Homo sapiens: one gene and its partner. The protein of the gene in region 1 purifies or fractionates together with the protein of each later gene. This does not show direct contact. Each region holds a gene or a part of one and is shown on either strand. Other genes may lie near its edges.

Region 1 (3,500 bases):
GCTGAGGGCTGCTGGGCATGACAACTTAAGGTCAAACTTCACTCAATGCTTCTCAGCTTCTGTAAGAGGGATGGATGAGACAGCCCCAGAAATCAATATACCTACCATCCTTCCACCAAAACTTATGAAGCATCTACTCTGTGCCAGCTCTGCACAAGGCACTGTGGCCACAGAGAAAGAAGAATGTCTGAGAAGCTTCTGCAGGCAGAGACCACTGGAGAAGATACCAGTGAAATCTAGGATAGGTCTAACTGCTTCAGCGTGCCTGTTATTCCTCATGCCTCGCTCCCCAACCAGCCTCCAGGTTCCCTTCTCTGCAACAAAGAGGTTCCTCCTGTGGACTTCACCTGGTACCACCCTCCCCTCCCGCCCCCCAGCTGGCTCCTGCCTGGGAGATCAATGGGTAAAGGGAAAGAACAATCTTCAGGCATTTCTCCCCTACTTCCTCCCTGCTTTGATGTATCTGGCAGCAGCTGCTTCTCTGCACAGCTCAAGTGCCAATGAGGTGGCCTCTCTTCTAAGGCTCCAGCCCTTCCTGGGCCCCAGTGACATCAGTGCCTCCCCCTTGCCCTTCCTAAGTGGGAACAGCACTTTGCTGCTGCTGGTCCCAAGTACCTCAATATCCTTTATTGGTTCCCTTAATCTTATATGTTATAAATAGCTTCTTCATTACATTCTCTTCAGAATCCCACCTTCCATTTCCTGCCAAGACCTCACAGATACAGATACCACCTCTAGTCCAAGTCAATTCCGTATCTCCAGCCCAGAAAAACCCCCAAGCTTTTCAGCAACCTGCTGGATGGTTCCTTTTGGATTCAAACTGCATGCATCTAAACCCAACCCACCATCATCACCCTCCCACAATTGTAAAAGATCCCAAGGCCTTCCAGCTACCTTGATGCCTTCCTCCTCTCCTTCCGCGAACATTACCAAGCTCTCTGAGTCTTCCTTCCCTTCAATTCACACTCTAACATATTTGGAGAACCACTGAATGGCCACCTAATTGGTCTTCCTGCCATCACACCCAGCCTGTGGCTTATAAAACATACATGGGGGATGTCTCCCCTGTTCAGGAACCTTACGCAGCACACTATTGTCCACAGAACACATTCTGAACCAAAGCCCCCTACAATGTAGTCTTCCCATAGCTGACTTTAATCTGCCCTAGCCCGCCCAACCAGTATGAACCCTATGTATGCACCCTCCCCTCCCCACTTCTGCCCCACCCATTCTTCAAGGCTCGCTGAGGTCTGTAGTGCTCTTGATGCCCTGCACTCTCACAGGCTATCTAGCCACGCGTGTGGCAAGGACTCTCGTGCTGCCACACATTGCCTCTGTTTGGTCTTGCCTGTGAGTCTGCATAGCCCTGACGAGAAGGGGTCCCGACATCCCCCACAGGGACGAATGCACAGGACATGCTTGTTAGATATGAGTAACATCCATTTCTGGTTTCAGAGCTGAGCCCCTGGCCTGGTGGAAGGGGCTAACCATGGCGGGGGCCAGGCAAAATGCACATTGATCCTGCAGCTCCATGAGAGCTGGAAAGGAGCTCCCAATAAACCAGAAGCTACTTCAGGGCCCCACAGAAGGAAGGAAGGAATCAGGGTGACATTTCCAGAGGGGCCATGAGTTCACCCTCACCTGCTGCTCCCATCATGCCCCCAAACCTGACATTATTGCACCAACCACCTCCCCCGACACCGTGCCCTGCCAGCCTCCTCTCCAATCAGGGAGCACAGGTGGGAGGAGACATGAGAACACAGAGGTGGCAAGGGGTCCCTGTGGAGGAGGGGATGCTCACCTTGAGGTTCCCATCAGCTGTGATTCGCAGGCGGTTGCAGGTCCCACAGAAATGCTCAGACATGGATGTGATGAAGCTGATCTGGCCTTGGAAGCCAGGGATTTTAAAGGCCTGGGCAGGGGAGAGTGGGAGCAAAAGGGCAGTGGAGGGGATGGGCTACTGAGCCCAGTTTCTCACTCCATGACATCAGAACCTCCACTCCTCAACCCTCTCCCAGAGGACCCCACGTGAAGCTCCACCCAAGGCCCTCAGGTGATAGAAGACTCTGGTAGGATGGATGACCCATGGGTTGACCTATGCCTGGCTTGCCCTAGATAAAAGCTGCTAAGGCAGGGACCTGTGGGCAGCATGTTTAGAAAAGTCTGCGTGGAAGCGGGATGAGCACCCCTCTCTGCCACTTCCTGGAGTGTGTCCTCTGACATGTTACTGAGCCCCCCACCCTAGCCGAGCCCACATCTTCATCCATGAAACAGGGAGGTGGTTGTGATAGCACTGATGCTTCCTGCTTAAATGGTACCATCCCACATCACAGCATCCCCACCACAGTGCAGCTCCCTGCTAGCTCTCCATCCTAGGGTGGAGGTACGACCTTCCTCCAGGCCTGCCCCACACCCTCCTGCTCCCTAACCTTGGCTGTGCTGGATTCCTCCTCTGGCACCTTCTCCAGCTCTGGCCACTGCTGCCGGACAGTGTCTAGCATCTCCTTATAGCTGACCATCTTCTTGAAGTTCCACTTGTTGCCTGTATTCGGGATGGGGGAAGGCAAGGGGAGCTTCTGAATCACAGTTGAAGGGGCCCCGGGGTCTTTGAGTCCATCCCCTGCCACAGCATAGCAATCAGTTCTCCAGCCTCTTGGAAGGGAGGGACGGGGGCTCTGCCTAAAACTGGTGGATTGAATCACATCCACAGCGGGCTCCGAGAAGCCACCAACAGCCCATCATAATCCTAGACTCACTGCCCCTGAGGTCAGCCATACCCAGTGGGTGAGCCACACTATGCGACCTGCAGGCCCAACCCCTTCTTCCCTCCCTCAACCCATCCCTGGTCACTGACCATCAAAGGGCATATACTCTATGAAGCGCACATCCAGGGGGAGGCCCTCAGTCAAGGCCGCAAAGTCCAGGAGTTCATCCTCGTTAAGGCCTCGCATCACCACACAGTTCACCTGGCCGGGGAACAATGGGACCATGAGGGCTGTGCCCCCTGCATTCTTTTGTGGAGATGACCCTTGGGGGCCTGGCACTCACTGAGGCCTTCCACTCAGGGACCCATTCCTTGCTTCTCCCACTCAGTTCTCTAAGTTACGGGATTCCTTGGGGTCACTGATTTTCTCGTTTCTCTCAAGGGTCGGCAGGGCTGGACCAGCAGGGAGAGAAGAGGTGGAAGGGTGCACGTACTTCAGCCATGCTGGCCAGAGCTGAGGGCTCTCAAGTGGGCCAAGGGGCGGTGAGGGGAAGGCCAGGGCAGTGTGGAGGGAAGTCGGGAATCTACGGCAGGGGCACGGCCTCACCTTCACAGGGTTGTAGCCCAGCTCGATGGCCTTGTGGATGCCCTCCATGACCTTGTGGAAGCCTGGGAGGGAGAAACAAGGATCCAGGAACTTCTGTCCTCTCTCCTCTTCCCCCACACCCCCACAGAAAAGCACCAGAGCCCATCTAGTCTGGAGATTGGCAAACGTTTTCTAAAACAGGCCAGAGTA
Region 2 (3,095 bases), on another chromosome or scaffold:
TAACTTAGGCCAGATTAAACAGAAAGCAACCTCTGCCACAAAGCATCTCCCTAGGAAGAGATCACAACATAAACTAAAGCACTAACTCTCAAGATCCTGTTGTCACGATGATTCAGTTCATATATTATCTCTGACTTTTCTGAGATGATCTAATAAGTTCTAAGCAAAAATAAATATTTAATCTTTGATTAAATAACATTATTACTTAGTCTAGGGTGACTGGGTTACGTAGGATGGCTTGAAAGAGATAAGCCTTGGTGGACATCTTAAAAATTTAACTGAAGTAAAGAGCAACTGGTTTAGTTCCCTTCCCCTGGAGTGTTGTGGTGTTGAGAAGACAAAACTTTGGGAACAATCACAGGGGGGCTAGATAGACAATGCAAAATTGCTGCTGGAGAGACTGAGTGAGTAGATGTTAAATAACTAAGTGCGTGCTGGATGAATAATGTTCTGGATCCAAGAAAGACATACACAGGTAAAAAATGAATTCATGCCTTTTGTGTTGTTCAAAACTTGTACTTTATTTTTCTCAAATATTTTTACTTATGCTTTTTGTCATTATCCACAGTGTTTTTTTTTTAAAGCCTGAGCCACTTTGTGGTTTTAGCCTCAATATAATAATCATCCCCTTACTCTTAGACTAATTCCTTTTCCCCTGTCACTTTGCCTGTATACTCTGTAAAAATGAGGACCTTAGAAAATCAACATTTCCTGTGAACTTGAGAGACTATACAAGCAGTGCCCAAATCAGTAGGATTAGGCAGGTAAAACCAGTTGGATAGCAGATATATTATGATCTGTTGGACAAAGGTATAGTTGTGTGCATGTCTACAAGGTCATCGTGATTCGCCATTAGCTTAAGGATCATGTAGGTTGACCAGGGTGAGGTAGGACTATCCACAGGATTGTGTAAATTGTGGTAGGGGATGCAGTATACAATATTCATGAATTAAACACTTAGCTAACTGCTTTCCTGAAAATGGTCTGTGTTCTAAAAGACAAAGATCTAGGTTTTTTGCTGTTTTTTACTTTAACTTATGAAGATTCAAGTCACTAATATGTTACTTGCTCTGGTTTAAAATGAAAGCAACTGGCTATGGTAAGGTAGAGAAGACAGCTGAATTGTATCAGAATATTTAAGACTTTTAAATTAAGTTCTGAGTTACCTCACCTTATAAAAATATATGTCAATATACTAAATACCCAACAAAGATCCAGGATGTGGGATATTTAAAAATACATTTCTCTTGTATCAGCACCAAAAATACCAGTTTCTGTACAACCCGTGTCAAGTTTTTAAGTATACACACATTAAAATTATTTCTGATAAAAAAATCACAAACTCCACAGAAATAATTAAAGATATATGCAAATTACTTTCAAATACATTTTGACATCAAAGTCAGGCAATTCACTTGGAAGAATGTTATAATGAATGTCACTGAATTTTTGTAGTAAGATGTTTGACGTCAACTTTGATTATGGGAATACATCTCACACACAGGAGGCACTGGTATTTAGAAACTTAGGAAAATTACTAGAATTGTTAAGACTGAGGTGAAGAATTTGTACAGCCTTCCACAATTTCAAAGAGGTAGTGATAGATACTTGTCCTCCTGGCAATATCAAATGCAGTTTCTTCCAAGTTGTTTTTCAGCCCTGGTTTGACGTAACGGTTCATCAGGAGGAGTTCTAGGGTATCCTTGCTGTCTCTGTTCCCAGCAGCAAGATGCAAGGGGGTCAAGAGGCCTTTTGTTTGGGCATTGATATCTGCATCATGCTGCAGTAAGAAAGAAGCCACTCTGGTATTATTCCACTTACAAGCACTGTGCAGGGGCGTCCAGCCATCCACAGTCACTGCATGAACATCGGCCCCCTGTGCAATGAGCTCCTGAACAATATCTAAGTGTCCACTGTAGGCTGCTCGATGAAGAGGGGTATACTCATCTTCATCCCTAGTGTTCACGTGAGTGGCCTTTTCAGAAAGGAGTCTCCGCACTGTGGTAAGCTGAGAAGAAAAAAAAGAAATCTTTCAACTCAACTCAAACCAAAACAATAACTAAAACAAAATTGTCTTGTGGTGTTAGATTTAATTAAGTTGAATAAAAACTTACTTGTTAGTAGATGACTTTAAAATGAAAATAATTTAAGATCTCTTTTTGGGGAGGAGAGGACTACTGATTTAAGAATGAACAAGTTAGTGTTAACTACACTTTGTTGCTTCTAAGAATGAGATTCTCTGAATATCAAACCATACATTTACTCCTGGTCCAACTAAGGTTTATTGCATAAAAGCTTCAGTCCAATGAATAACATAGGCTTTCTGTTTAATATTTTATGTGTTATCTGTGAAGAAAACATAACTGCTTGATTTTTCTGTAGGATTATCACACCAATATACACACTGTATGAAACTTTTAAAAATAAAACTTTTAACAGAAGAATAAAGTATTAATAAGGAATTCTAGGGATTCAAGAGCTCAATTCCTTCTCAATACAACCTTAGAAACAACCTTTTAGGTTGTAATTTTCAGTTTGTTCTATGGGCCTCTGGTTAAATGTGGCATGCTCTTGGGTTAAAAAGCTATTTAAAATGCGAGACCCTTTTAGTTATTAGTTTACTAACACAGACATGGGGAAACTTAGTAAAATGAGGTGGAAGTGGCCAAGCAGAGGGAATAGGCTTTTGATGTTCATTCCACTTCGATGATCCTGGGCAAATTAATATTCCTGAATCTCAATTTCTTACTCTATAAAAGAGAAGAATATTACTTATAGGGATACATGATGATTAAATAAAATAATGTAATAAGGTACCTGGTATAGTTAGTTTTTAATAAATGTTAGTTTCCATCCTCTCTTTCCTAAATGATCCTAATGACTTTATATAAATGATTTTAAAATATAGATGATTGCTTGCTATCTTTATAGATAATTATCCTTAAACCCCCAAATAATACCTAGCATGACACTTTGCAGCTTAATATGTGCTTTCATGTACATTGTCTCATTTGGTCCTCACAATCAAGAGATAGGTATGATGGCCATAACAGTAAAGGCAGGTCTTCTGGCTTGAACCCAGTGCTTTTCCTACT

The links.
Region 2: the proteins of MOCS1 (region 1) and ANKRD49 purify together in Homo sapiens (affinity purification with mass spectrometry; one large-scale study listed by BioGRID and IntAct). This does not show direct contact.

The regions. Positions count from the first base shown.
Region 1 is NC_000006.12:39,910,463-39,913,962, forward strand, and holds part of MOCS1 (molybdenum cofactor biosynthesis protein 1), read right to left. Parts: intron 3,374-3,500; coding exon 3,312-3,373; intron 2,967-3,311; coding exon 2,855-2,966; intron 2,543-2,854; coding exon 2,430-2,542; intron 1,913-2,429; coding exon 1,802-1,912; intron 1-1,801. UniProt on the Homo sapiens protein: Isoform MOCS1A and isoform MOCS1B probably form a complex that catalyzes the conversion of 5'-GTP to cyclic pyranopterin monophosphate (cPMP).
Region 2 is NC_000011.10:94,496,984-94,500,078, reverse strand, and holds the end of ANKRD49 (ankyrin repeat domain-containing protein 49), read right to left. Parts: intron 2,009-3,095; coding exon 1,547-2,008; 3' UTR 501-1,546; downstream 1-500. UniProt on the Homo sapiens protein: Induces HBG1 expression. May have a role in spermatogenesis where it promotes autophagy in response to serum starvation, via the NF-kappaB pathway.